3 separate regions of the Homo sapiens genome follow, and regions 2 and 3 are each linked to region 1. Evidence: fine-mapped expression QTL. A gene starts in region 1. Each other region holds a variant in brackets. All regions are shown on one strand. Distances are between the middles of the regions.

Region 1 (2,758 bases):
GGTCTGTGGTCTCCCTTCATGGACCAGAAAGCTTGACCCCCAAGGGGACCCTGGCTTCTACTTCCTCAGAGCTAAGCAGTGCCAAGGGGCAGCCTGAGACATGGGCAAAGGGGAAGCCTAAATGGAAAAAGAGAGAGAGAGAGAGAGAAAGAGAGAAGGGGCAGGGAGGACAAAGACACATGGCAAGTGTCCAAGCTGGAACATTCCCACCAGTGGCCTTATTGCATTAAGGATTTTCCCAAAAAGCAGAAATACACTGATAGTCAATGGAACATAGCAGAGCTGTCACGAGCCCAGGAAACACAAGTCCCACCTCTACACAGCCAGAGACTGTGTGACTGTCCCAAATTTTAAATCAAGATAGACAATAAGAACCTACCACTTTCACATCCAAGAAAACTGTGTCCCTACACATTTCAGTCACACCGTGCTGTGGCTTGAGGCCAGCCAGATGCAAAAATCAGGAAGGTTCTGAGGGGTAGGGCCTTCTGTCTTTCTGAAAGGGGCCCCTGAGCGGAGGGGGCAGTGCTGGGGGAGCTAAAGCGCAGTGGGCTGTCACTTCACGACTATGACTTCTGTTTCCCAAGTGCACTTCCTGACCCTGAGATTTGTGCCATGGCACACAGGAATCAGGGCACTTCCGTTTACATATACGCTCATTATCAGGACTGGCGTCGTGGGTGTGGGGCCTGGGCAGTCACAGGGCCCTGTTCTTAGAAGGTGCCCCGGCTTGCTTTAATGCTGTGTTGTTGTCCTTTTGAAAGCCTTACTATTTTAACAAGGGGCCCTGCATTTTTATATTGCACAGGGCCCTGCAATTATGCAGCCATTCCTGCTTTTGATCTCACTTACCCCACAGCCATAATGGAAGAGCGCCTGGAAGGAGTCCTTATCCTGATTCCCAGATGGTGAAACTGAGTGCCAGGAGGGGCAGTGCTGAAGCCGAGACCAGACAGGATCCCTCGGGTGGAATCCAGGGCTGCTGTTTCTCTTGGGGGCTCCTCCTCAGTGAATGGATGGGTGGTAATCTCCTTTCCTACCTGTCCTAGCGGTAGCCTCTGTTCCTTCTCTTGTTTTATCTCATTTTATTTTTTTAAAAAATACCAAAACCATTCTCTCACCTGCCAGAGAGGAGCTCATAGGAGTTGGGCTTCCTCAGAGAGTGTTCCTCCCTCGTCCCCTGTCCTGTCCAGGCACCTGCGAGCAGGATGGTGTGTCCCCGGCTAAATCCACAGGCGCTCCACTCTGTCCCAGAGAGCCCACAGCCAAAAACTTCGTCCTGTCCTGGAAAAGCTTCACTGGTAAGCATTCCCGACCTTTAGACCTGCCTTGGCCCATAGCTGGCCACGAGCCCATAACGATCACTTCCCGGCTGGGTGTTTACCTTCCTGGGCCCCATGGGTTGAGCCAGGGTGGCAGCCACATACCTGACACAAAAGTGGTGCAGGAGGGAAGGGCTATCTGAGGGGAAGGCTGGGCATGGCTGGAATACCCGCCGCCCGCCCAGTGCAAGATAATGCTGATGGTCACACCAAGAGGGGCCCGTGGCTCAGCTGGCCCACCAACCCCAAGCATTGGCCAAGCCAGCTGCACGGCCCTCAAATCTGAGATTTGGGAGAGGCTTTGGGGTCCTCCAGGGTTCTAGTCACTTCCTGCCATGGCCATCTGGCCTTAACTCAATCACTTCCAGGCATGGAACACTCACTGCTTTGTAAGGCATCTTGCTCCATTATTATTATTATTATTATTATTATTATTATTATTATTATTCCCTCTAATAGCTTCCTTTAATCCAGTGCTTACTACATGACAGGCACTGGGCTAAGTACATTACATAATCTATGTAATCCTTGTGTTGTCACTATGACCAGAGAATCATGCCCATTTTAAAGATGCAGAAACAGAGGCTCAAGAAATTGATCATCTTGCTCAAAGCCCCACAGCTAGTAAGTTGGGGATCCAGGATTCAAACCCAAGCCAACTAGTATCAAAACCACTACCATCATTTGCCAAGTTTAATTGCTACATCATCCATCTTTATATAAAACTCAAATCAGCGTTTGTTTTAGCTATCTGTTCTGGAAACAAATTAACTCAAAGTGTGTGGCTTGAAATAACACTCATTTGTCATCTCAGTTTCTGTGGCTAGAAGTCTGGGCACTGCTTGGCTGGGTTCTCTGCTCAGGGTTTCTCATAAGTTGCCATCCAAGTGTTGGAGGGGCTGAGGTCTCATCTCATGGCTCCACTAGGGGGGATCCACTTCCAAGCTGCTGGTGTTGGCAGGATTCAGTTTCTTAGGGCTGTAGGATGAAGGCCTCAGCCCCTCTCAGCTGTCAGCTGTGGCCACTATCAGTCCTTTGCCATGTGGGCCTCTCCGCCCTGGCAGCTCGTTGCATCAGAGAGGGCTATGGAGAGAGTCTGGGAAGAGGTAGGTCAGTCTTTTGTAATATACTCAAGGATGTGATATTCCATCACTTCTGGCATATTCTACTCGTTAGAAGGAAGTCATCAGGCACAGCCTACACTCAAAGGTAGGGGATTACACAGGGCACAATACCAGGGGTGGGGGTCCCTGAGGGCCATCTTTGAAAGTTCCCACAGCCATCTGATTGCCACAAAACATGGGTTTCAGTTTTGTCCCTGAAAGCCAGATTGAAGTAGTCTCTCATCTATTCTCTCACCCATCCATCCACCCATCCACCCATCCATCCACCCATCCACCCATCCATCCGTCCATCCATCCATCCACCATCCATCC
Region 2 (2,758 bases), 110 kb before region 1:
ACGCTCTCAGTCACTCATATACACGTTCACTCACATTCACACACACGCTCTCAGTCACTCATATACACGTTCACTCACATTCACTCACACACACACGCTCTCACACTCATGCACACATTCACTCACACACACACATGCTCTCACACAATCACCCACAGAGGCACTGGGAGCCACGCTGCCCGTGGGGCCAGGACCAGGACCTGAAGCCAGGTGAGCAGGCCCCCTCTCAGGCAGCGCGGGCCACGGGGCTGCTCTGGGGTGGTGACGTCCGGCGGCCTCAGATCAGCCAGGTCCCGGAGTTAGGGCCGCCTACACCACCCTGTTCAAGTCACACATTTGAAAAACAAAAGAGACCCATCAGCAAGAGGTCACAAAAGAGGAACCAGGACACCAAGAAAAGTCTGCAGGAAGCCAACCTGCTCCTGATGGAGAAAGGCGGAAGCTTTACCAGCTCTAACACCCAAAGAGCGACGGGCTTTTACGCAGCCCGCGGGCCCCAATTCCCTGTTACTTAAGGCAGTTCAGCTTGTCCTGCAGTTCACGGTCAAACATGGGCCATGCTGCCTGGCCGGCCGGGACTACAGTGTCTGTCCTCGGAGTCCCACTCCTGCCTCCGCACTCGGATCAACCCTGCGTTCCCCACCCTCAGCAAAGCTCGAGGCTGCGCGATTTCTCCTCCCCGCTCTTTACCTACACGGTCTCCTTATGATCCAGGGTTCGCCGTGGACCTCTGGGCCGTGCATTCCAGCCTGATTTGGGTTGTTTTTTTGGCTTCTCCCGACCCCTGTGTTAACAAATCACTGCTGTCTCTGATGCTGTGACCTTCGATGCGTTGTTGCAGCTGCGTCACCAGGGTGACATCTGCGGGGGTCGGAGCCAAAGGCCAGCAGACCGTGGACTGAAGGGCGGGCTCACTGGCTGCCCTCCACCTTCCTCACGGCCAGGAAACAAAACGTAGCCCCTTCCCCACAAGGGTTCTGCGAGGTCCCTTCCCATCCACCCGTGTGCCAGGCCCTCCCCACACAGGTCACCCCCAGTCCTGGGCATCAGGGCACTGGCCTGGAGCCCAACTTAGTTCACTGGCTTTTGCCTGGAGGGAGGGAGGGGATGAAGAGAAGGCCAGGCAGAATGCCAAGGGTCTAAGGC[G/A]TCCTTCCGGGACTCCCTTAGAGGCTGTGGGGACGTCGCCGTGACACCTCAGCACAGGCCCTACCATCCAGGCTCCGTGTCTCCAGTATGCTGCTGGGAGCTATCAGGGCCACCTGGGCCGCTGAAGACCCGGCCTCAGTCTGTCCTCGGCAGGGCAGTGGCTGGGGTGTGTGTGGTACGGGGATCACCATGGCCCACTCCTCTCTCTCCTCTAGCAGCTGGGGCCAGAGCCAGAGCCAGGGGCGCAGGGCGCTCCCAAGCTCTCCACTCTCTGCTCCTGCCCCACAGAGTCCTCTTGCTGCAGCCGCCCTGGGGTGATTCACATCCTCTGTTCCCCAGGATGACTCAACAGCAAGGTCACAAAGTTGCCTCGGTGCCTGCTGCTGGTGCAGTCATTTACACTGCAGGCATCAGGATGCACGGAAGTGACTTTAAAAGGCTTCCAGTTAAGAAGAAACCCCTCAAAGGCTATCCTCCTTCTGCAGACAATGATGATGAAGTCGGACTCCAGAGCCAGAGCCCGAGCCCAGCCCGCTGCAGCGCAGTCTTTAGTGAATTCGAGGCCGGACTGAGCAGGTCCCGTGAGCAGCGTGGGGAGTGGGGGCTTGGCTGTCTGATGGGGGAGTGACAGCTAACCCCTTGGGTTGCTAAGGGACGAGGGGAGTCACATATTCAACGCAGCCATGGGATGCAGGCGCTGGGGGCCCAAACCCAAGCCTCGGCACTCACACACATCACAAATGCCAATTACTACGTTTTCTCAAGATGACCTGTTAATAAAATCATTCGCAAAAATGTTTACATGCTAAAATAAGTGTGTGTAAATTTAAAAAGACACATGCTTGAGAACATGTTCAGCCTGCCTCATGGCAAGAGAAATGTTATGTTAAAACCACAACGAGGCCGGGTGCGGTGGCTCACACCTGTAATCCCAATACTTTGGGAGGCCCAGGCGGGTGGATCACCTGAGGCCAGGAGTTCGATGGCCAACATGGTGAAACCCCGTCTCTACTAAAAATACAAAAGATTAGCCAGGCATGGTGGCCGGTGTCTGTAATCCCAGCTACTTGGGAGGCTCAGGTGGAAGAATCACTTGAACCTGGGAGGTGGAGGTTGCAGTGAGCTGAGATCGCGCCACTGCACTCCAGCATAAGTGACAGAGTGAGACTGTCTTAAAACAAAACAAAAACAAAACAAAACAAAAAATGTTTAATCTAGCACACTGGGTAAAGAGAAAATAGCTGGGTAAGGCACCACATTAGTGGCAGGGGACCAGCACACTCATATGTGGCTAGTGTGTGAAGGCAATTAGGCGATACCCTCTCAAAATTTAAAGAACATTTAACCTTTCACCCAACAATCCCACTTAGCAATTCCCTTAGCATTCCACTGTGTAGATGTTCAATCTTCCATGAGTATAAATAATGCTGCAATGAACACTCTCAGTACCCGGTATTTCCAACTGCAAATATCCATCAACAGGGACAGGTTAAATACATTATGGAACATCTAAACAGTGGAGCCCAGAAAACTGCAAAAATGAGGGTGCTCTATTTGGATGGAGATGGAAAGATATGGTCAGTATTTTAATACTAGTTTACATTTGTGTGAC
Region 3 (2,758 bases), 120 kb before region 1:
GGTCTGGGAAAGGGACAGGAGGAGTGGCCCGAGGTGGGAACCGACTGCAATAGGGTAGGAAGTCCTCATGTCTCAATGTGGCTGAGAATGACCATCAGATGCCCACTGAGAGTGATATTCTTTTTACTAAGCTTCTGCCATGGGGTGACAAAGAAGTGGAATATGGACATCCCCCGCCTTGCTCTCCACCATGACGGCGTCACTGGCTCAATGGAGGTGCCCTAGCACAGCTGTCAAAAGCTGGCTCTCAGCTCCAGCTGATGCCAGGAGCCAAACGTGGCAGAGCGCATGGTAAGAGCTCCTGAGGACTGAAACATACTCGCTGGCCCTTCCCGCAAAACCCCTGCTCTGCTGCAAACCTCTAGGAGGAGCCGTCTCTCTCTGAGGGTCAGGAGATGGTCTGGAGAGATGGTCCTTGCACTCTTGGGCAGCAAAGGCCCAGGGCTCTTGGGCAGGGCCAGTGAATCCCCTCACAGAGATGCACAGGGGTGACTGAGCTCCGGGGACTGGGAGAGTGGCGTGGAGGGCTGGGTTCGGAGCAAAGGGCTTCATCAGGGCACAGGGAAAGTGGGAACCAGCCTCGGTGAGCCTCACAGGAGGGAGGAGAGACTGTTTCTGACATGGAAAAACAGGCAAAGACAAGCCTGGGGTCTGTGTGGGCCCCAGATGCCTGCAAAGAACAATCCCAGGGAGCTGATGAGAGGAATCAGGGCCTGTGCATGATCGCAGAGCTCCACACTGGTGAAGAATGTCCTGAGAGCCACGCTGCTGTCCCCACATCCATGCCAGGCACAGTAACAAGACAGGCGGTGAGTACGTAAGGCTGGAGCCAGGAAGCAGGGTAAAGAAGGCTCTCTACCCAAGCCATGCCTGGTGTATTTTTTTAAGCCCCAGTGACTCTTTTGATTGCAAAAGTGAATTTTAAAATAAATTTGCATATTCTAAAAAGACACACGGACATGTGGGGAGCAGGGCCGGAAAGGTGTGCCTGGATGAGGAAAACAGTGCATTGGGATACAGCACAAGAGGAGGTGAGACTCACCATTTCCAGCTCCTTGTGAGCATCCAAAGCAGTGCACTCCCGCTCAGACCTCTCTTCTACCCTCTTCAGGATGTTCTATGCACAGAGAAAGGCTGCGTTAACTTTAATCTTTTCTGGTCTTTCCTCCCATTTCCCACCTTGACCGTGACTACCTCCCTACTGCACCAGTCCAGCCCCATGCTGCAGCATGCACACACACACACACGCACGCACGCACACGCATACATGCATGCACACATGCATACAGACCTGCGTGTGCACACACGTGCATACATGCTCGCACACACATGCACACCATGCACATGATGCACACCTGCAAGCAGTGTGCACACATGCACACCGTGTAGAAACATGCATACAAGCACACGTGCACACATGCATGCACACACGTGCATACATGCTCACACATGCACAACACGATGCATGCACACTTGCAAGCACAGTGCACACACATGTACACACGTGTACAAACATGCATACAAGCATGTGTGCGCACACATACATGCATGCACATACATGCATACCTGCACACACACACGCATGCACGCACACACATACACACAGCCTCCATCTGACAAATGGAGAGCAAGAGAGCCC[G/A]CAGGTGTGGCACCCAGCAGTGAGGACTGTCACGCTTAGGGTCAGCTCTGTCCCCAAGGGGAGCTAAATGCTTACGGGACAGGGGTAGGGGGACCAAGGGCTTCCCTCTCCTCCCTGGGACTGTCATTTGGCCCCGAAACTTTGTTAACTTTGGTCTTCTCCATGAAAGTGTAAGAAAGAGTCTCTTCTCCAACTGTTCAATTTTCTTCAGTTAACAAAAAATTATGCCCATACTGCTTTCACCTGTAAATTACGATTTTGACATTGCTCTATAAACTCCACATGGTTTCCTCTTAGCGGTCCCCACCATGCCCACGTTTTCTGACTGGCTTTTGTCCTGTAAGTAGGCTGGGTGCATCTGGGCACCAACCACCTGTCCTCCCGGCTGCTGGGTGCCACGGCAGCACAGATGTCTCCCCTGACAGCAGCCCAGGCCTCTCCTGTGGTCACCTGCCCGCCTCTGCCTGGCAGCCAAGCCAGAGACCTTCGAGACCCACAGCCACCTTCCTGCTTTTTCCATCCTGTATGTGGCCACCATGCCTGTCATTAACTGTCCCCCTACTTCCAAATCCCTGCTGAACAGCACGGTTTAGACGCCATCTTTTCTCACAGGCATAAAAGCTGCATCTGACCAGGTGGCATTGGTGGCCTCAGATGGAGGGCAGTATGGGTTCCTTAGCCTGGCACGTGCTCTCCCACGCCAGCCTCCACTCGGTGTGTCCCCAGCATGCTGCCTGATGTGGAGACTTGCCGTTCTCTCTGGAATGGTCCCTGACCCGCCACCCCTTTCTCTGAGCCCTTCCCTGAGTGCCCACCCCAGCTGTCCCCATTCCACCATTTCCTAATCACTGCATTTCCATTGCTTTTAATCTTACTGTTGGTTTTCATCTTATAGAAGCTAAGGTTTTAATATATTCATATATGCACTTTCCCTATAAAATGTCCTAAAATATTTTTCACTGCATAATTAGGAAATGTTACTGTCTTCTGTTTCACTTTTTCCAAGTTAAAAAAATATTTCCCACGGAACTGCGTTCATCACAGGTGTCTTCCGGTTTGGGGTCGCCATCCCGGCTTTGCCCTCACGTTCGTATCTCCATTAGCCCTGGGCCAGGGGCT

Alleles and levels. Positions count from the first base shown, and alleles are read on the strand shown. Sizes are in standard deviations (SD) of each study's normalised expression. Not every link is listed here.
For the expression in testis of the gene that starts at base 1,310 in region 1, allele G in region 3 goes with a lower level than allele A (small effect, 0.22 SD a copy in GTEx).

What was found. PIP is the estimated chance that this variant, and not a neighbour inherited with it, causes the effect. A credible set is the group of variants that fine-mapping cannot tell apart.
Region 2: its variant is the best candidate, but not a certain one, in a credible set for the expression of NGEF in adrenal gland (GTEx, PIP 0.82).
Region 3: its variant is the best candidate, but not a certain one, in a credible set for the expression of NGEF in testis (GTEx, PIP 0.70).

Annotation. Positions count from the first base shown.
Region 1 is chr2:233,011,947-233,014,704 of GRCh38, forward strand. It overlaps NGEF (neuronal guanine nucleotide exchange factor), which reads right to left and starts at 1,310. Exons shown (of 15, transcript NM_019850.3): 1 at 1,122-1,310. LOC101928881 (a long non-coding RNA gene) reads left to right here and starts at 668. Exons shown (of 3, transcript NR_136325.1): 1 at 668-1,023; 2 at 1,194-1,301.
Region 2 is chr2:232,900,672-232,903,429 of GRCh38, forward strand. The region is part of intron 5 of NGEF (neuronal guanine nucleotide exchange factor); the gene reads right to left. Among named protein-coding and RNA genes, the nearest start is that of SNORC, 32 kb to the left of the region's middle. RefSeq lists enhancers at 1-363, 364-987, 869-2,068. The variant G/A (reference allele first, on the strand shown) is at 1,147.
Region 3 is chr2:232,886,991-232,889,748 of GRCh38, forward strand. NGEF (neuronal guanine nucleotide exchange factor) reads right to left here. Exons shown (of 15, transcript NM_019850.3): 9 at 1,043-1,117. Among named protein-coding and RNA genes, the nearest start is that of SNORC, 18 kb to the left of the region's middle. The variant G/A (reference allele first, on the strand shown) is at 1,640.